Linked DNA regions of Homo sapiens: regions 1, 2, 4 and 5 are each linked to region 3. The links come from fine-mapping of genetic effects on gene expression. A gene starts in region 3. Each other region holds a variant in brackets. All regions are shown on one strand. Distances are between the middles of the regions.

The links. PIP is the estimated chance that this variant, and not a neighbour inherited with it, causes the effect. A credible set is the group of variants that fine-mapping cannot tell apart.
Region 1: its variant is the best candidate, but not a certain one, in a credible set for the expression of XXYLT1 in blood mononuclear cells (TOPMed, PIP 0.61).
Region 2: its variant is the best candidate, but not a certain one, in a credible set for the expression of XXYLT1 in nasal epithelium (TOPMed, PIP 0.63).
Region 4: its variant is the best candidate, but not a certain one, in a credible set for the expression of XXYLT1 in prostate (GTEx, PIP 0.88).
Region 5: its variant is the best candidate, but not a certain one, in a credible set for the expression of XXYLT1 in whole blood (TOPMed, PIP 0.66).

The regions. Positions count from the first base shown.
Region 1 is chr3:195,066,144-195,070,260 of GRCh38, forward strand. XXYLT1 (xyloside xylosyltransferase 1) reads right to left here. Exons shown (of 4, transcript NM_152531.5): 4 at 2,141-3,968. The coding sequence ends at 3,572. Among named protein-coding and RNA genes, the nearest start is that of XXYLT1-AS1, 26 kb to the right of the region's middle. RefSeq lists an enhancer at 2,189-3,388. The variant T/C (reference allele first, on the strand shown) is at 2,291.
Region 2 is chr3:195,078,843-195,082,959 of GRCh38, forward strand. The region is part of intron 3 of XXYLT1 (xyloside xylosyltransferase 1); the gene reads right to left. Among named protein-coding and RNA genes, the nearest start is that of XXYLT1-AS1, 14 kb to the right of the region's middle. RefSeq lists enhancers at 182-698, 1,503-1,582, 3,474-3,643. The variant G/T (reference allele first, on the strand shown) is at 1,871.
Region 3 is chr3:195,268,702-195,272,818 of GRCh38, forward strand. XXYLT1 (xyloside xylosyltransferase 1) reads right to left here and starts at 2,458. Exons shown (of 4, transcript NM_152531.5): 1 at 1,854-2,458. The coding sequence starts at 2,357. RefSeq lists an enhancer at 1,697-2,488 and silencers at 1,739-1,918, 2,079-2,608, 2,859-3,088.
Region 4 is chr3:194,529,557-194,533,673 of GRCh38, forward strand. It overlaps the pseudogene RNU6-1101P. Among named protein-coding and RNA genes, the nearest start is that of ATP13A3-DT, 44 kb to the left of the region's middle. The variant A/G (reference allele first, on the strand shown) is at 1,599.
Region 5 is chr3:195,177,898-195,182,014 of GRCh38, forward strand. All of the region lies in intron 2 of XXYLT1 (xyloside xylosyltransferase 1), which reads right to left. Among named protein-coding and RNA genes, the nearest start is that of XXYLT1-AS2, 32 kb to the left of the region's middle. RefSeq lists enhancers at 2,161-2,738, 2,739-3,316. The variant GAC/G (reference allele first, on the strand shown) is at 2,487.

The DNA.
Region 1 (4,117 bases), 200 kb before region 3:
TGCAGTGATCTGTTGGTGGGCTGGGTGTGATCTGTTGACGGGCTGGGGTGTGATCTGTCAGTGGGCTGGGGTGTGATCTGTGGGCGGGCTGGGGTGCCTGTGCAGTGATCTGTCGGCGGGCCGGGGTGTGATCTGTGGGCGGGCTGGGGTGCCTGTGCAGTGATCTGTCCGCAGGCTGGGGTGTGATCTGTCGGCGGGCTGGGGTGTGATCTGTGGGCAGGCTGGGGTGCCTGTGCGGTGATCTGTCGGGGGGCTGGGGTGTGATCTGTGGGCGGGCTGGGGTGCCTGTGCGGTGATCTGTGGGCGGGCTGGGGTGCCTGTGAAGTCATCTGTCGGTGGGCCGGGGTGTGATCTGTCGGCAGGCTGTGGAGTGATCTGTCGGTGGGCTGGCTGCCTGTGTGGTGATCCGTCGGCGGGCTGGGGTGCCTATGTGGTGATCTGTCAGCAGGCTGGGGTGTGATCTGTCTATGGGCCAGGGTGTGATCTGTTGGTGGGCTGCAGTGTGATCTGTCGGGCTGGGGTGTGATCTGTCCGCGGGCCGGGGTGGGATCTGTTGGTGGGCTGCGGTGGGACCTGTCAGCGGGCTGGGGTGTGATCTGTCAGCGGGCTGGGGTGTGATCTGTGGGTGGGCTGGGGTGCCTGTGCAGTGACAGTCTGCTGTGCACTGGGGGGTTGGAAGGTCGAGGCCACTGGTGACAGAGGGGAAGCTCCTGAGAGGTTTACTTAAAAGTAAATGAGGGATGTTGTTTGGCCTTTGCCCATTTTGACCAACCAGCTTATTGTTTTTTTCTTGCAACAACAAAATACACACATAGCTATAGACACATTTTAATTATAGAAAGGATTGCAGGGAAAATACCTTTATTATTGTGAGTCTAAAATTCTTTAGCCTTTAACTCACTTTTTTCCCGTTGAAATAATTGTTTTTTTAATGTGGTGTTTGAAACACCTATGTTTTTAGAAGTTGAAATACAGCAGAATAGATGCTCTTTTTATACATACGTGTGTGTGTAGGTATGTATCTATACACACGTGTGTACACTGATATACATACACATATATGTAATTTTAAAAATAGGATCGTATTAAACATATGATCTTACATTTTGCATTCTTTATTTAATAGCACATTCTAAGTATTTCCTGAGGCATTACATATTCTTCGAATAATGCCTCAAGTATTCTGTTATATGGATGAAGCATATTATTCATCTACCTATTCCATTCTTTTTTTTTTTTTTTTTTTTTTTTTTTTAAAGACAGACAGAGTCTTGCCCGGTCCCCCAGGCTGGAGTGTAGTGTCGTGATCTCAGCTCACTGCAGCCTCTGCCTCCTGGGTTTGAGTGATCCTCCCAGCTCAGCCTCCTGAATAGCTGGGCGTGCACCACCATGCCCAGCTAATTTTTGTATAGTTGTAGACACTGGGCCTTGCCATGTTGCCCAGGCTGGTCTTGAACTCCTGGGCTCAAGAGATCTGCCGGCCTCAGCCTCTGAAAGTGCTGGGATTACATGTGTGAGCCACCGCGCCTGGCCCCTCTTTTTCACATTTTAAGTTGCTTCCAATTTTCTTCTACTATAAAAAATGTGATAAACATATAGTATATGACTCTGTCCACATCTCTCACATTTTCTTACAGTCGACTTTAGACATAATGACCTTCATGAAGTTTTCATAAACATTATCAATAGCGTAATAAATCCCCCAATACAATGGCTGGTGCACAGCAGGCATTCAAGAATTGTTACCTATAAATAGGAAATCAAGTAGGTGAGAGAACAGACCAATTCTGTCACAGCAGAGGGCTGGGAAAGATATCTGCTCCACCTCTTCAGGGCAGGATGTAACTGGGCAGTCTAGGGTAAGAGGGATGAGAAGAAATGGGGATGCTTTTGCTCCCCAGTGCAGGTGGACCTGCCAATACCTAGAATGAAATGATTCCTTGCTTTGAACCAAACATGCCAATACTACCCTCTCTGACACCCTCTCAGATGTGCCCTCTCCTTGGTCCTTAGGATCTCCTGTAAGCACTCATCTTCATCAGGGGAGGTGGGGATTCCAATGGCATTGAGTACACACTTGATTCAGAGCCTTCATGCAGCTGAAACTGTGATCAGAGAACAAACAACATGAATCACCATGTTCTCAAAGATGATTTATTGGCTATCCTCACTCATGGGAAAAAGAAAAACGTAAATGAAATCAAAACAAAACAAGATGAAAATTGATACAAATGGACCCCTGGGGCTTTCACGTCTGCAGCCTACGTACAGGAGGCCCCATCAAAAGAAA[T/C]GACGCTTTAATTTCTGCTAAGGTCTACGGTCTAACGTGGTATGATAAGGGGATTTTTTAAACAAAGAAACTAGAATGCTTACTAGCCCATGAGTGACATGTCTTCCAAGCCCACATGGTCACACTTGGGAATTGCTGGGTTCCTTTTTGGTTTTTTTTTTTTTTTTGAGATGGACGTCTCACTCTGTCGTCCAGGCTGGAGTGCAGTGGTGTGATCACAGCTCAGTGCAGTGAACTCCTGGACTCAAGCCACCCTCCCACTTCAGCCTCCCAAGTAGCCGGGACAACAAGCACAAGCCACCACACCTGGCTAATTTTTAAAATATTTTGTAGCGATGGGGGCCTCCCTGTGTTTCCCAGGCTGATCTCGACCTCCGAGGCTCAATCGATACCCCCACCTCGGTCTCCCAAAGTGTTGGGATTACAGGCTTGACGACTGTGCCCGGCCTGGGCTTTTTGGAATGAGTCTTCCTGGTCCCGACAGTTCTCCTGCATGTCCTTGTGGTGGCCAGTCTCTGTTCTTTGATGACGAATTTGCTTTCTGAGTAGAGTCTGGTCACCTGGAGCTGGTTTGGTGGAATAAAGGACAATGGGGTTCTAGGATGTAGCTGGGAGATACAAGCTGTGAGTACTCTAATAATGAGATAAGTTTTCTTATGCAGGCCCCAGTTGGTCCTGAAGTCCTTCCTCAAAGAGGCGATCCTGAAACCTACACCAAGTGACGTGAGCATCAGGAGAATGCGCGTGCAGCAGCCTCCCAGGGTGAGTATGTGATGGGCTGGCATTCGTTTGGAAGCTTAGATACTGGGCTGGTCATTAAAACCTTGGCTTACCTTACCCGTTTGGGGCTCGATGGGTGCTAAAGCAGTTCTGTTTGTACTTTCTCGAAAAATGGAAGGCTGTCAATTTAAATTAAATTTATATTGGTCCAAAAAAGGCCGGGTCTAAAGGATTTCCATTCCTCAGAGGCAGACAGCAAGGGGGACCCTTTCTCCCCTTCCTTCTCTTCAAGTGCTTGCTTCCCAGCCCACTGGACATGCGTGTCCTTTGTGTCGCCTGCTCCCTGGAGGAATAAGGTCCCAAGCACCAGCAGTGCACAGGCCAGTCCTTGGCGGGTGGCCTCAGCACAGTGACCTGCCCGGCAGGAGGTCTCAGCACCTTAATCACAGGACTTCCCTGCGGTGTCTCTCTAGCGGGTCAGACACTGCCCTTGGGTCTGTCCCAAGGAACCCTGTCCTTCCCCCAGATCTGGAGGCCCCGGGGGCAAGGCACGGGGAGCGCCTAGTCCTCCGGGATGGGAGTGTTGCAGTTCCCGTGGTAGATCTTGACGTGGCCCTCACACCTGAAATAGGCCTCGAAGACGTCACTGTAGCCATGGTCCCTCCACCAGGTGCACAGCTGCCGGTTCCAGGTACAGTCCAGCACATGGAAGAGCTTGGGGTGCTCCATGCCGATCATGGTGAAGAAGTCCTGGTCCCCGAGGTGGCCGCGGAAGTGGTACTTGTCGGCCAGCTGCTGCACCTGCGCCGGCTCCAGCAGGCGGCTGTAGAGCGGGGACTGGCGCATGGCCTCCAGGTTCAGCAACATCACCCCGCTGTTGAAGCCCGGCAGCCCCTCGGGGGGCGGGCCCCCAACCCGGGTCTGGGGGTTCTCATGGCGGAACTGCCAGAATGTGTGCCTGTGGAGAGAGAGGACAGAGTTAGTCCGGTGTGCAGGGGAACCAGCCTGCCGGCCTGCTGCCCTGGGTCTTCACAGCCAGCCTGCATGCAAACACTGCCACATTCCGGGGTGCAGAATCCGCATCACTACACCAGCAAGTGGCAGAGC
Region 2 (4,117 bases), 190 kb before region 3:
AGGGACACCCTCAAGAATTCCAAATGCTGATGGCCCTTCCCTTCACCTTGACCACAGTGTCCTCAAACCACACCTAAGCTACCCACTCGGCTCTCCATGAACTTTGCGACCAGACGCACTCTGCTCCAGTGATGGGAACTGAGATCCCTCTCTGGCGGCAACGTCCTGACCCACCCTGCACAGAACCTGCTCATCAGACCCTTGGAAGCTCTGACCCCTGCCCCCAGATGGTCAGCCTCAATTTGCATCTCCCGGCCCCTTACCCAGTGTCATCTGCCCCCAGTACATCACTGCATGTGAGAATACAGCAGTGTGGAAAGCTGTAGAGGGCAAGGACTTGGAAGTGCCGCAAGAGGTGACAGTGACCTTGGAGAAGGAGAGGGATGGAGACGGGGAAGCCACACCCTTGGCCCTGGGGAGCGTATGAACAGCAGAGAACAGACGCCAGGGAGCCAGATGGCACCTAGAGGCAAACAGAGGACAGAGGGGAGGATATTTTCCAAAGAGGGAGAGCTGAGTATTCTGTACGCCAAGGGAAAGGGATGCATACATGAGAGAAAGACAGACTGAAGAAATACAGGGAAAACGGCAGGGTGGCTTCTTTGAGGAATGAGAATAACGATAATGGCTAATATTTAGTGAGGACTTACTATGTGCCAGGCCCTGTTGTAAGTTCTTAAATGTATTCAGTATAATGTTTGTAATAAGCAAACAAGGTAGGTACTATGATTTCCATGTTCTAGATGAGGAAGCTGAGGCAGAGAGCTCTAAAACGCTTGCCCGAGGTCAGCAAGGGGAGAATTGCCAGGCAGAAGAGCTGTCCGGGAAGAGGGAACCCTGGGATGTGGCTGGGAGCAGAGAGGGACAGAAGCGAGGACAGCAGCAGTTCTGAGAGGTCAGGAAAGGAAGACATGAAGTCATCTAAGGAGGAGGAGGGGCTGGGTGTGAGAAGGGTTTGAGAAAGAGAGAATCTGTTTACAAGGGGCTCTGTGTAATACAATCGGGAATGAATAACAGGCAAATAAAGGGTGAGGGTGTGGGCAGAGTCAGGTGACTCTGGGACTGATAAGGGGAAGTGTCCCGCTCATCTTCATGTCTGGAGGGCCTGGCGTGGGCATCTGATTCACAGAAGGGCCCCCAGAACTGTTAGTTTCAAATGGATGGATTAATGAAGGAAGGCATAAGAGATTCTAAAGCTAGATGGCAGGAATTTAGGAGAATGTTGGATGAAGGCAGTGGCACAACCGTTCAGAAAGGCAGGGGCGGGAGGAGAACGTGCCTCGGGCCCAGTCACTAGAGGGAAGTGAAGACAGAGAAGGTGAGGCAGAAAAGTTGGCTCCCCAAGCCCAGGAATCCACATCTGTGACGAAGTGCTCAGTGTGACAAAGACTAGGAAGGAAGGGGCCCAGATGGTGACCTGACCTGGGGATGCCCACAGCCCTCTGGACAACACCCTTCCTAGCGCTGGCCCTGGAAGGCACCCAGCCTCCAGTACTGGGGCTTGTAGAGGGAGCAGCTGTTCAAGCCCCAGTACTTGTCACAGGGAGCAGTTCAATTCTAGTGGGAGCCCCAGGACCCAACCAGGAAACCACAGAGCCGGCAGCCAAAGCTGGTGAGGACCCACATGCACCTGGCCCAGCTGGGCAGCCAGGCCCCAGCTCAGCTCCACAACCCTCCTCTTTCCCTGAATTTAAGGGAGCGGGGGTGGGGGGGATGGGGGAGGGTTTGTCAGAGTGAAGACAAAACCACAGAGGGTCACCTTCAGAATCGGCTCACTGTCCCCGACAGCCTCATGGCGCTGGAGGTCACAGGAGAGAGTGCCAGGACACATGGTGGGGTGTTTTCCGGGACAGCGAGCAGAGTGCAGCCA[G/T]GTGTGGGAAAGGCGGCAGGGAGGGTATGTGTGGAATTTAACCTTGTGTCCCCAGTTAGACTCCATCAATCCGCACCAGCGCCCTTCACCCTCATGGGAGGGGGTGTTCCAACCCAGGAGCCAGAGGTGGCAGAGACTCCGTGGACGTGGCTCACCCAGGCACGAAGGTGCTGGGCAGTATGACCCCCGGCTGCAAACTGTGTTACTTCTCAAGATCAGAAAAAGTGGAGCGCCCTCCCATTCCATGTAAGGGCCCCCACCTTTGGCTGTCCCTGATCGCTGTCCTACACAATGTGGCATGGATCTTGGCCAAGGCAAAAATAGTAATTGGCACGGTGACAGTGTGATGGGCCAGGCCCAGGCCCCGCCTGCAGGAGCCTGTCATGCTGAGGTGGGCAGCCCTTCTCAGATGTCACTGTGCCTGGGCTCACCTGGGAGCTCGTCAGCCACTGCATTTCTGACAAGCCCCCAGGGATCGCTAACGCTGCTGGTCCAAGAATCACACTAAAAAAAAAAAAGCGTTTTTATGATTTTTATAAAGAGATGAAAGCCACTGAGTTATTTTATCCTGAAAATGGCCATACAACAGGTGGCATAGCAATTTGCAAAGTATACACAGGTTCTATGCTAATACTTGTCCCGTCTTCTCCCTCTGTCACAGCGCTGAGCAGGGCCCGGGGACAGGCTTCCTGGAAGCAGCACAATAATGCTTACAGGTGCCAGGAGGGAGGCCCAGCTCCGCCACCTTCCATCGGTCTAGGGTGGAGGGAAGGCCAGGAGGCAGCAATATATCAGATTTCCACTGCCTTGAAAAAAAATGTACAGTGCACATACAGGTTAAGAATATAGGTTCTGGGGGCAGACAGTCCCAGTCCGGAGCTTAAATCCTGGTTCTCTGCATCTACACTGGAGAAGGCACTCAAACTCTCTGTGCTGCAGGCTTCCAAATATAAACAGGGCTGCCGAGAAAATGTTATGAGGTAATGCAAGTAAAATACTCAATACATTCAGATGAGATAAGGAAAGCCACAATGTCAAGTTCAGCGAGCAGCAGTGCAGATTCTCAATGCCAAACACACCAGCCTCCCCTGTGGTCTGCAGCAGCCAGTGGGCCCTGCAACTGGTCTACCTGGCTCTGCACCCACCACCAGGGTGGGCCTGGGCAAATCACTTCCCCTGCTGGGCGCTCGGTTCCTAAACCTATTAAATGGACGAATCGGCCAGAGGATTCTTGTCAGTCCTGAAAGCCTGCAGTTCTAGGCCAGGACTAGAAGCTTCCGGGGGGCGATCACTGAACTCCAACGATTGATGATGTCTCTTTAACTGCATTCCAAGTGCGTGATTACAACATGGATTTGCTGTTGTTGTTACTTGCTTTTGTTTCAAAAACTCACTTCTATGTATTGACAAAGCCTCACGATGGATCCAGTGTGGGGCATCTGGGTGGTTTCCAATTATGGGACCTCAGCAGTGTGCTGTGTGTGTCAAGGGTGGCGGGCGCGTAAGGCAACCACTATGCTTATTTGCTTTTGCAGAGTCCTTAGGTTTGTCCTATTTGGGTGTATGCAGATTCAGTTTTCAGGAAATAGGGGTGATGAGTCTCAGGCGTTTGCCTCCCCGTCAGCCCCCCTCCCTGGTGGTCTTCCTGGAGGGCTGCTGACACCTGCCCATCTTCTCTCTCCCTCTGGTGCTACTGTCTGAGCAGCTGTGCAGGAGCAGGAAGGAGGAATAGGCAGGGCCAGAAAAGTTCCCTGTGTCCCTGGGACTTCCTTCCCTCAGGCATTTCGGCATAAACACACGGAACCTCGTGGGAGTACAGCAGGAAGAAAAAGTGAGGAACCCTGAAGAAGGATCTCTCGGCTGGGCACGGTGGCTCACGCCTGTAATCCCAGCACTTTGGGAGGCTGAGGCGGGTGGATCCCTTGAGGTCAGGAGTTTGAAGCCATCCTGGCTAGCATGGCGAAACTCCAACTCAACTCCACAAAAATTAGCCGGGTGTGGTGGCGCGTGCCTATAATCCCAGCTACTCGGGAGGCTGAGGCATGACAATCACTTGAACCCCGGGGGAAGGAGGTTGCAGTGAGCCGAGATCACTGGGTAACAGAGTGAAACTCCATCTCAAAAAAAAAAAGAAGGACCTCTCCCAAACTTGCCCTCAGCCATAAGGCACCCCCCCTGCCAAGAGCCAACAGTGAGGTGCCAGGTCACATGTGGCACAGACATGGCCCCAGCCAGGAAGCCCTGCTC
Region 3 (4,117 bases):
ACCCCTCAACAGAGGAGGTATCAGTTCCCTCTGGTCATTTGCAGCTGCCTCCAGGCCTTGAGTGAGGCTGCCAGAACTGGGCCCAGTAAAGTGGGGTAGTCCGAGCATGAAACACTTACTCCAAGACAGGAGGGGCTCGGCCCTGAGGCTGGATCTACCCCTGGGCCAATATTTCTGGTGCCAACTAAGAGTGCCAGGCATTGTACATAGGGATGGATGATAAGACATGATACAGTCACAGCACCAGGGAAGTAGAAAAGGAAAGAAGGGACGCTTCCTTGGCTCCAAGGAGGGGATGGTATCTGAAGATGGGCAAGACTTGGAGATGGAGAGAAGGAGCACCCCAACAGTGGGAATGACAAAAGCAAAGGCAAGTAGGCTGGAAAGCACTGGCTGTGCAGCTAGCGCTGCAGCGGGAGCTGGGGACAAGGGGACAGAGATCCGGCAACGGTGCAGAGTAGGCCCAGAAGAGATGACAATGCTATCTTCAAGGCGGTGTTTGGAGACCTGGTCAAATCCCAAGATCTGCCCAGACTGACCCTATGGCCAAGGGCCCTCAGTTTTCTACCGTGAACTAGTGCAAAGTTTCTCAAATATTAGGGTCATTAGGATCACCTGGGACAGGTTGCCAGGCTCCTCCTCCAGCGAGGACCTTCAGAGGTCCCAGGGTCTAGGGACTTTCTCAGGAGAGGTGAAAGCTGAGTAAAGAATGGCCAAGGGCCCAAGAGGACACTGTGGGCAGACAGTACAGCATGTATAAGGCCCACTCCCTACATAGCTAAGGTATGAGGTGCATGTAGACAAAGGAGGAGAGGTGAAGCCAGAGAAGTGGACCAGGCTCACAACACAACAGCCCTACCAATAAACTGGGACTTCACCCCGTAGGCAACAAGGAGCTATCAGAGACTCCCGAAGCCTGTAGGATCCTGGCAACAGCTCCCCTAGTCACTCACATAATACAACTCCTGTCTCAGCATGCTTCCCCAACCAACATCAGTCTCCACCCTTTAATATTACCTACTACTCCTTAAAATCTGGCCTCGGATCCCCTCTGTACAACTATTAGGTCAAAATCAAATAAGCAATTTGACCTAGGCAATTCACACTATGTCAGAAACACATCTCAGACAAGGAGAGCCAGGCAGTGAAGACAGATGATAAACAGAGATGGAAGCTGTCATGGAGGCAGACTGGTCCAGCCTGGGACAAGGCGGCCAGCTGTGCTCTCCCCAGATCATATCTGTTCCTCTTGAGCTTTCTCTTCCTCATTCGGAGGAACTCCAGGCTTCTCTAAATGGGTTCATGACCCTTGGAGGAAGGGGAAAAAGGGACACAGAGAGGAGATAAGATGGTTCACAATGAGTTTGACCAGATCCTACTGAAATACCTTAAGAGCAATGAGAAGTGTCACTGCAACTTCAACACTTCCAGAGGCCTCACCAAGGCCCTCTCCAGTTGCTCAGGATGACTACTGGTGACCAGTCCCATCCTCAGAAGTCAAAAACTGAGGAACATAAACAGAGGTGCAGACTCTGAAGGCAGTGCTGAACCCTGCAACGTTAGCAAAATGGGGGCGCGCGGACTCTCCTGGGGGCTGCGCTTAACTGGGGGAGAGGAAAACGAGGCGGTCATTAAAAACGCAGCTCCACTCCTCAGCACCAGCTGAGGGCGTCTGGCTCCCGGACACGCCCCCGAACGAGCCCTCCCGCAGGTTGTGAACACTACATTGCAAGCGGGCAGCTCAGGGAAGATCCTACCCGCTAGTTCCCCGGATCCCCTCCGGGAGCGCAAACTGACCTCGCCTAGGATGGGGTGGGCCACCCACCGGGAGCCCCCAGCCGCGGCCCGCTCACCTTGCACTTGAAGCCAGCGGCGGGCGGCAGGAGCTCCCGCAGCAGGCCCTTGGCCACCTCGCGGCTGGCCTCCTCGCTCACGAAGTGAAGGTTAAGCACCTCGTGCGCCTCGAACTTGGCGAGGCGCAGCAGTGAGCGCAGCGCGACGCGGGCCTTGGCCTGCAGCGCGGCATTGTGCTCCGCCTTGGTGAACATCATCAGCAGGTGGTAGTCCACCGGCCCGGCACCGCCGCCCTCCAAGCTCTTGGCCTTCGCGCCGGGGGCTGGCGCCACGGAGCCCCGCGCTAGCTCCAGCGCGGGCGGCGAGGGCGCGGCGGGAGCCCCGGCGCGGGCCTCCTTCAGCCTCTTGGTGGCGCTGGAGAAGGTCTCCCGGCCTGAGCCGAGGTAGTAGAAGGCGCAGACGGCCAGCGCCGCGGCCAGCAGCAGGGCGCAGTAGTGGGAGCGCACAGCGCCCAGGCGCGCCATGGCCCGAGCGCATGGGAGCCCGCCTCGGAGGAGGCCCATGCGCTACGAGACCGCGGCGCCAGCGGTGCCAGCAACGCGGGAGAGCCCTCGGGTACCCGGACGCCGGCGGCCACTTAGCCCCGGCGCCAGGCGGCGGCCATGAAAGGGGCGGGGCCGCGCCGCCTGGAGCCAATCGCGGGCGCCGGTGCGCGGAGGGGCGGGGCCGGGCGTGCCGAAACCGCTGGGTCCTAGGTTCCAAGGGTATTAGAGGAGGGGTTAGGGTGGGATCCGGCGCCCGGCGTTGGGAGGGGGGGATTCCGGACTCCAGCGTGCTGAGGGCTGGCCCGCTGTCCCGGCTGAGAAATGGCGCCCTACGCGGCGAGCCCCAGAGGATATCCAAGCTGAGTGTTGAAGGGAATGGAGGCGCCCGAACAGAGGAACTTAGGTTAGCCAAAAGCGAAGCTGGAGGCACCAAGAGGTAAAACTTTAATCTCTGCACCTTTTTTCCCTCAATTTCTTGGAGGCTTTAAGCCGTCTCGGCCTCTCCCTGCACACGAGCTGCAGCTAGGCAATTTAAACCGGCAGCTCCTCCCTTTTCCCCCGCCCTGGGAGGAAATGGCCCGGGCCGCACGTCGCGCCGGAGGCCGAGCGGAGGGAGGCTGGAGGATGTGGCCAGCAGGGGGCCCCCGCCGCCCGCACGAACCTGCGAGGCTGCTCCCCGAGCCCCAGCACCGCAAAGCCCTGGAGGGCGACATTCATCCACTTTTGTTTTATAAACAGACTTTTAACACTTTATCAAGAGCCTCCTTGAGGGTACCAGGGAGTTTTGCACGCCGAGGTCACGTGCCCAAAGTCACACAGCTAGCCAGTAGCAATTTTGACCCTAGGCAGTTGCACACTGCTAACTAGATAAAAACGTACTAACTTCAGTCTTCTAAGAATTGAGGCTATACCAGTAGTTTTTAAGTAAACACGTGCAAGTGCTGTGCATGCTGTCTAAATAGACAAAGAACTTGAGTAAGTACAGTAACCCTTCAGTTCTTTGGCCAAGTTCTCTGATTTCTGACCAGAGATTAGGTAAACGGTTTTTCCTGTTATTTCCACATTGTAAGGTTGCATGGATTATCCAACCTCTCTGCTTCAGACCTTGGCTTACATGTCACTACCTACACAAATGATCTCTAAATACCTCCTATCCAGTGTCTGGGCTAAGTGCCATCCTCAATAATTCTGTGAGGGCCACCTAAATATATGTACTACCCTAGTCTCATCTTTCTTCATTGCAAGAACACGTGACTCCAAGAGAACAGAATATACATTTGTTTTTTATTAACCACAATATACCCAGTACCTAACACGGTGCCTACCACATTGGATGAGTCTCAAAAATATACTCAACCATTGAAACAGCATTTTTATTTCTAGAAAATCTTCCTAATAATTTAAGAATGTTCAAAATATTTAACCATAAGAATAAAGCAAGGCCAAGCATGGTGGCTTAGGCCGGGAATGGTGGCTCACGCCTGTAATCCTAGCACTTTGGGAGGCCGAGGAGGGCAGATCACCTTAGGCCAGGAGTTCGAGACCAGCCTGCCCAACATGGCGAAACCCCGTCTCTACTAAAAATACAAAAAATTAGCCAGACATGGTGGCGGGCGCCTGTAATCCCAGCTACTCAGGAGGCTGAGGCAGAAGAATCGCTTGAACCTGGGAGGTGGAGGTTGCAGTGAGCCGAGATCATAACACTGCACTCCAGCCTGGGCGACAAGAGCAAAACTCTGTCTCAAAAAAAAAAAAAAAGTAGGCAGTGTGGTGGCGGA
Region 4 (4,117 bases), 740 kb before region 3:
GAGCCACCACACCCGGCCAAAAATTTTAATTACATATATCCTTAAACCGAGAAATATCACTTTTAGAAGTCTATTCAATAAAAACAATTTCTCTGGTATACAAAGATACATGAAAAGGTTAACCATCACATTACTTGTAAGAATAAAAAATTTTGAGAGGCTGAGGTGGGTGGATCACCTGAGGTCAGGAGTTTGAAACCAACCTGGCCAACATGGTGAAACCGCGTCTCTACTAAAAATACAAAAATTAGGTGGGCATGGTGGCGCACACCTGTAATCTCAGCCACTCGGGAGGCTAAGACAGAAGAATCACTTGAACCTGTGAGGCAGAGGTTGCGGTGAGCCAAGATCATGTCACTGCACTCTAGGTTGGGTGACAGAGCGAGACTCCGTCTCAAAAAAAATAAATAAATTTAAAAAAGAATAAAAAATTGGAAACAGCAGAAATGCTCATCAAGGAAAGATTAATTAAATTAATTGTGGGATTGTGCTGCATCCATACAATGAAAGACTATGGAACTATTAAAAAGGAGGTAAAGCTCTCTGTCTGGAAGCCAGAAGTCCACAACATATAGTTAAATGAAAAAGCAAGTCGCAAAATAGTCTAAATTTATTAGCCCAATTTTGGGGTCAACTTTATTGAGGTACAATTTAAATGCAATAAAATTCACCAATGTTAAGTGCACAATAAATGAGTTTTAACAAATATACCATCATATAGTCACTACCACAATCATGAAATTGATAGGATATTTTCATTACCCCCAAAAAATTACCTTGAAACATTTTTCAGTCATTCTACACCCCTACCCTCTGCCTCCTGGCAACCACTAATCTGCTTTTTATAACTAAGATTTTGGACTTTTTTTTAGCACTTCACATAAATGGAATTATATAGTAGATAGTCTTGAGTCTGACTCCTTTCACATAGCATGAAGCTTTTGAGATTCATTCGTGTTTTACATATCAGTGGTTCATTCTTTATTATTGCTGAGTAGCATTTCACTGTAAGGTTTTACTACATTTTATATATTCATTTACCAGTTCTTGGGCATTTGGATTGATTCCAGTTTTTAATGAGTATGAATAAAACCACTATAAACATTTGTGTACAGATTTATTTAATTTAACTTTTTATTTTGAAATAATTATAGATTCACATTATAAGAAATAATACAGAGATTGTTTCCTTACTTATGGAAGAAAAGAAAAAAAGAGAGATCCCTTGATCCAGCTTCCCCCAGTGGTAACATCTTGTAAAGTATAGTAACATATCACAACCAGGCTGTTGACATTGATGAAGTCAAGACACAGAGCAGTTCCATCATCACTGGGACCCCTTGTGTTGCCCTTTTATAGCCACACTCACCTCTTTCCCCGCCCCCAGCTCCTGGCAACTATTAGTCTCTTCTCCATAATTTTGTCATTTCAAGAGTGTAATATAGATAAATGTAAGCATACAATATACAATATACAATTTGTAAAGATTGGCTATTTTCACTCAGCCTAATTCCCTAGGGATTCATTACATATGAGATTCATTACATATACACACACACACACACACACACACACACACCAATAGCTTGCTCCTGTTT[A/G]TTGCTGAGTAGTGTTCCGTCCTGTGCATATACCATGACTTGGTTTTTGGCTATTATGAATAAAGTCGCTATGAACAATTGGTGTGAATGTAAGTTTTCTTTTCTCTGAGATAAATGCCCAGGAGAGCAACTGTGGGTTGTATGGTAGTTTCATGCAGTTTTATTTATTTATTTATTTATTTATTTATTTATTTATTGAGACGGATTCTCCCTCTGTCACCCAAGCTGGAGTGCAGTGGCGAGATCTCGGCTCACTGCAACCTCCGCCTCCTGGGTTCAGGCAATTCTCCTACCTCAGCCTCCCGAGTAGATGGGACTACAGGCGCGCGCCACCACGCCTGGCTAATTTTTTTGTACTTTTAGTAGAGACAGGGTTTCATTGTGTTAGCCGGGATGGTCTCGATCTCCTGACCTCGTGATCCACCCGCTTCAGCCTCCCAAAGTGCTGGGATTACAGGTGTGAGCCATCACGCCCAGCCCGCACGGTTTTATTTTTAAAAACTGCTAAACCTTTTCCCAGAGTGGTTGTATCATTTCACATTCCTACCAGCAATTTTTGTGGCCCAGTTTCTCTACATCTTTGCCAGCATTTGGTGTTGTCATTATTTTTCATTTTAGCCATTCTGCTAGGCAAAAATAAAAAATATCTTTTTAACTTTTTTTTTTTTTTTTGGTATTTCTAGTACAGACGGGGTTTCACCATGTTGGCCAGGCTGGTCTCGAACTCCTGACCTCAGGTGATCTGCCTACCTCAGCCTCCGAAAGTGCTGGGATTACAGGCATGAGCCACCGTGCCCAGCCTAAAATAAAAAATATTATTATGCTACATGCAAAATGCAAAATAATATTTCACTGTGGCTTTATTTTGTATTTCCCTAATGGCTAATGATGTTGAACTCTTTTCATGTGCTTATTTGCCATCTGTATAGCTTCTTCAGGAAATGTCTGTTCATGTCTTTTACCCGTTTTCTAATTGGATTTTTTTACAAGTTTGTAAGTGTGCAAATTTGGGGGTTTCCTGAAACCACCCTCAGGTTTGGTACTTTGCTAGAATGACTATCCAAGTGATCCTCCTGCCTCAGCCTCCCAAAGTGCTAGGATTACAAGCATGAGGTACCACACCCGCCAAATAATTCTTTTTATATTCTTGATACAAATACTTTGACAGATACATATTTTGCCGATATTTTACCCCAGACTTGCCTTTTCATTTTCTTAACAGTATTATTTGAAGAGCAAATTTTTAAAATTTTTATGAAGACCTAGTCATCATATTTTCCTTTTTGTGGTCTATTTAATATATTAATATATGCCCAACCCAGGGTCACAAAGACGTTCTTCTGTATTTTATTCTAGAAAAGTTCTAGTTCTAGTTCTTACATTCCGGTCTACTTTTCATTTCAAGTTAGTTTTTGCAGATACTATGAGGTAAGGGTTGAGGCTCATTTCTTTACATATGGATATCAATAATTACAGTATGACATGTGCAAAAGAGTCCATTTTCTCAGTGAATTGCCTTGGTATCTGTAAGGAGTTACCCAAACCACACAGTCAGACGGAACAATCCCTATAAGATTGCCCTGACTTCAGACACCAACTGCGAGTTTGCGGCTTCCTAAAACCACTCTCAGATTTGGTACTTTGCTAGAATGACTCACAGAACTCAGGAAAGTGCTGTGTGTACCACTGCAGCTTTATTATAGCAATGGGATATAAATTAGAACCAGACAAAGGAAGAGACACGTAGGGTGAAGTCTGGGAGGGTTGCAAACATGAAACTGCCACTATCTTCAGGAAAGTGTTTTCCTACCAGCACTGATGTGTGATAGTCTGTTCAGAGTATTCCCAACCAGGGAAACTTACCTGAGCTCTGGTGCCCAGAGATTTTATTGAGGTTTTCTTACAAACACGATTGGTTGAGCCCATGTGGTTGTACTCAATCTCCCGCCCCCTGTTCCCTAGAGGTTGAGCTGATACCATGTGTCCCCCAGCTCCAACCGTCTTATCAGATAGTTGGTCTTCCTGCCATGGCCACCCCCAACATGTTATAGCATAAAATATCAGGTGTAGTTCCAAGGGCCCATCAAATAACAAAGACACCCTTAACACTCAGGAAATTCCAAGAGTTTAGAGATTACCTCCCAGGAGATGGGGAAAAGGCCAGGCTTCTCTATAGGAGCCACATTTCTTGCTATATAAAATCTTTGTCAAAAGCAAATATAAAATGTGGTTCATATCCACAGGTTTAGGTCATACATGTGTATGTGTAGATCTATTTCTGGTCTCTCTTTTGTTCAATGATCTACTAGATGGAATTTTCTATGTAAAGAATTCTGTAATGATTTTTTAAAAATATGGAACCCTTGCAAATTTGCATGTCATCCTTGCGCAGGGACCATGCTAATTTTCTGTCTCATTCCAGTTTTTTTTTTTTTTTTTTTTTTTGAGACGGAGTCTCGCTTAGTTGCCCAGGCTGGAGTGCAGTGGCATGATCTTGGCTCACTGCAAGCTCCACCTCC
Region 5 (4,117 bases), 91 kb before region 3:
GCACTCCAGCCTGAGTGACAGAGCAAGGCTCTGTCTCTTAAAAAAAAAAAAAAAAAAAAAGAGGGATGGAAATGTTGCTTTTGTTGACTGGAGTATCAGTTACAAGGGTATATAAGTTTGTCAAAACTAACTGGACTGCACACTTAAGACCTGTGCATTTCATTGTATTAAACATTTGATCTTGATAGAAAATAAATGAAAAGGAGGTATGACAGTCTGACTCCATTTTTTGCTCTTTAACTGCTGACAGCTTTTTTTTTTAAGCCCCATCCCTCGCTCTTCCCCTTCTGCCCCACATCTGGGCAAGCTGATAAGAAAGTCTGGATGCTCTCCCGCTTGGCTGCAGCAGAAGGTTCAAACCATGTAAGCCCCTGCCCACACGGAACCCTCGCCCAAACCTAACCGCTAATCACCATACAATCCCCAGACCAGTCTCCTTTCTCCTTTCTCTTCCCTGTCTTTCATTTTCAGACCAGCTTGAGAAGCCGGCCCTGCTCTCTCCAGAAAACCCTATTATGTGGTCTCAACGTTCAAATCAAATTCTGGGTGGAGACCATCCTGGAAATGTGGAGCGGCCACAACAAAGGGCACACACAGAGGATTTGGTGCCACTGCAAACTCAGTGTCTCCAGCAGGACGCGGCCATCAAATAAGGACTTGGCGCAGCTCCATCAGCAGAGGCAGAGCTCCCTGGTTTCACGCAGGGAGCTGAGAATAGCCCTGTACTCTGCACTCCGGTTTGTGTCTGCCCTCTCCCAGTGCCCAGCTCTGAAGCACGGTCTTCACACCTGGGCCCCGTACTTGAGGGGAGCAGAGACCAACTGCTGTGCATTCAGAAGCAGGTATCTGGAGAGCAGGGAACCTAGAGATATTTCCACCAGGGAGCACATGGGGAAGCCGGGACTGTTTCCCCTGATGGAAGGCTCTCTCTGAATTTGTAAAAGAAAGGAAATAGGCTTCTTCATTGAGATCGAGAGCTGAAGCATCAAGAGATAAAAGCAGGTTTTGGAAAACATAAGAAAGAGTTTTCTAAAATATGTCTGAAGATGGAAGAGGCTACTCTGAAGGTGGCAGCTCCCTGTCCCTGGGCCTTCACGTAGTTTCCACTGGACAACTCCACACTCCAGGGAGGCCATGGAGGAGATTCAAGAACTCATGATGGGGCCGGGCGCGGTGGCTCACGCCTGTAATCCCAGCACTTTGGGAGGCCGAGGCGGGCGGATCATGAGGTCAGGAGATCAAGACCATCTTGGGCAATATGGTGAAACCCCGTCTCTACTAAAAATACAAAAATTAGCTGGGCATGGTGGCACGTGCCTGTAATCCCAGCCACTCGGAAGGCTGAGGCAGGAGAATTGCTTGAACCAGGGAGTCAGAGGTTGCAGTGAGCCGAGATCGCGCCACTGCACTCCAGCCTGGGCGACAAGAGTGAGACACCGTCTCAAAAAAAAAAAGAAAAAAAAAAAAAGAACTCATGATGGGATCGTACCTCAGAGTTTTTCCAGCCCCAAAACACTCTGACCCAATTCAACAACTCCCTTAACTCCACTAAAAACTGCAGTGTTCAATACTCTGACCAGAAAAGGATATGGAAGCTCAAGAACTGGTTTTCAGTCACGTCCTATTTACACTCAACTTGAACACTGGCCAAAGAATCAGTCGGCTGAAGAGGCCTGCGTGTGTGGAGGAGGAATGCTGAGGAGACATTGGCCCCAGAATGGACACCGTCAGCTTGTAAGTCCACTAGTCAATTCCAACAGAAAAACCCCAAAAACAGAAACAAACCGGAGGCAAACAGCCCACACCGAGAGGTAAGCAGTTTCTAACTGGGAACTCAATTTCATCCTGCCCATGAGAAAAGCACAAAAAAGGTGATTTTCCAGATTCCACTTGCAGCCGTAGAGATGTGGGACAAATTTAAAAACGAGTCACAATTAACAAAGGATTTCCTAAGTGTGGTGTTGAGCCAGGAAACCTGCCCTGCGTCGCCCATGCTGTGACTGATGCGTGGGCCCCTGAGGATGCCTCCCCGTGATCCCTCGGGCCTTTGCTTCCTCCTCTCCCTCCCACTGTCTCCCCCAACACAGGCAGGCTCCAGGCCGGGACTCCACACTGCAGGCAGAGTCGGGCCAGGGTGCGGCTGAGTGACGGAGCGCCTGGTGAGGGACAGAAGAATCTCTGAGCGGCCCCAAGCAGTGGGGTTCTGGCAGAGCACCGCTGACCCGTCATGGAAGGAGGGGAGCAAACAAGAGGGGCAGGGAGGGAGGCAGCTGTGTAGCAGGCCTGGGGTGGTCTGGCTTATGCACAGTCATTTCTAACGCCAGATCCCCGTCTCTGCACTGACACCGGGGGTGGTGAGTGGCACACTCGGTCCCCCAGTTACAGGAAAGGTCCCTTCCATCCTGGGGACCCAACTCATGAGGGCCCAGAAGGAAGGAGCCACAAAGGTCTGGATGGTTTATCCCCCTGGCCCGCCTGGCCCTCAA[GAC/G]ACACTTCCTTCGGCTGCAGCCTCGCCGATTCCCGAGCTGTTTCCTGCTGCTTTTCTCATTTCATGAACTTCTTTTGAACAATTTCCTGTTCCTTTTTCTTTCTATGCTCCTCTTCCTGGCTCTGTAGCCCTTGAAAAGAAGCAAACAAACAGATAAGGGTCAGCATCTGAGGCCAGACCCTAAGGCCCTTCCCAGCCCTCTCCAGAGCGTGATGTGGCCCCGTCTGGCTAAGAGCACCAGACGGCGGTGGCTGGAGCACCCCGTGCCACTGCAAACGTGACCAGGAACATGGGTCTGACAGCTCTGGACACACACAAGCAGACGGGAAAGGCGCCTGCCCACTGCCCCCACCCCTGCAAGCACACACCTGCTCGCCAGGAGCAAGGGCAGCGCCGGCCCTCCTCGGGAGAAGCTCCAAGGCCTGTCCCTAGTCCTGCCTCAGGACTTTGCTCGTGAGGGGTCCTCAAGGCCACTGTCGCCCAGACCTTTAGCTATACAAAAGTAAGTGGTATGGTTCATCCCTTCTTGGCTAATGAGGTTTGACCACAAACCAAAATATAAAATGCCCAACTGATTTCAAGGAATTCAGTTCAGACAAAGGGCTAAAGGGTGGTGACTCCAGGCCGTGAGAGGGAAAGACAAGGCCGGAGCATCTGAGCCTTTGATGGGGCCCACCTGCGGCCAGGTGTGTAGCACTTAGAGAACATGTTCTAAAAAGAGAAATAAAGGTAATTTATTTGAGAAGTCGGTGCTTGAGAACACTGTGCTTCTCCTGAGGACTGACTTGCTTCCCCTGAGGACTGACTTGCTTCCTTCTCTCTGACAATGACGGCTCCATAAAGGATGACAATCTCCCTTTTCACACTGGCTGTGTATCTGCGTGGCTGCGTGGCTGCGTGGCTGCGGGGCTGCGGGGCTGCGGAGCATGTTTTGCCACCAGGCGTGCCTTTATGTCTTTTTCTATGAGGTCTACACTTTCATCTTCTACACATTTACCCCCTGGCCCTGAGTGTCTACTTGGTTTTGTTTTTTCACCTTTGTGTCATTTTAGTGAACACCTCAAATTCTCTGAGGGCTGTGACAGGGGACTGAGGAAGTGGATGATAATAGATATCCACAATCATGGTGTGAGCAGGTAACACTGCTTGAGTGCTTACTGTGTGCCAGGTACTGTTGGAAGCTGTTCCTGTATATAAGCTCACTTGGTGCTCACAACAACCCTCGAGATAGGTGTATTTCCATGGATAATGTATCCAGCCATGTGCTGGATCCTCTCACCCTCATTTCAGAGGAGAAGTCTTGGGCCCAAGTGGTTAAGTGCCCACAGGTGGTATCTGGCAGTGCTGGGTTTTGCACCAGGGCTGTTCCTCCCACAGCTGATACCCTTAACCACTGCATAATACATGGAAATAAGAGGGGAAGATGAATGAATGGCCTAACTCATGGACAATGGGTAAACTGCCCAAGCTAAAGTCAGAGGTTAGCTCCTAATGAGCTTCCGTATTTTTCTTGAGAAAGCTGGTCACCCAAGGTCTCCAATAAAATATGCTACTACAAACACACTTTCTATCTCAACAAACACTCCAGTTCTCTGGTCCAATTCCAGAGCAATATGACTAAAAACTGCC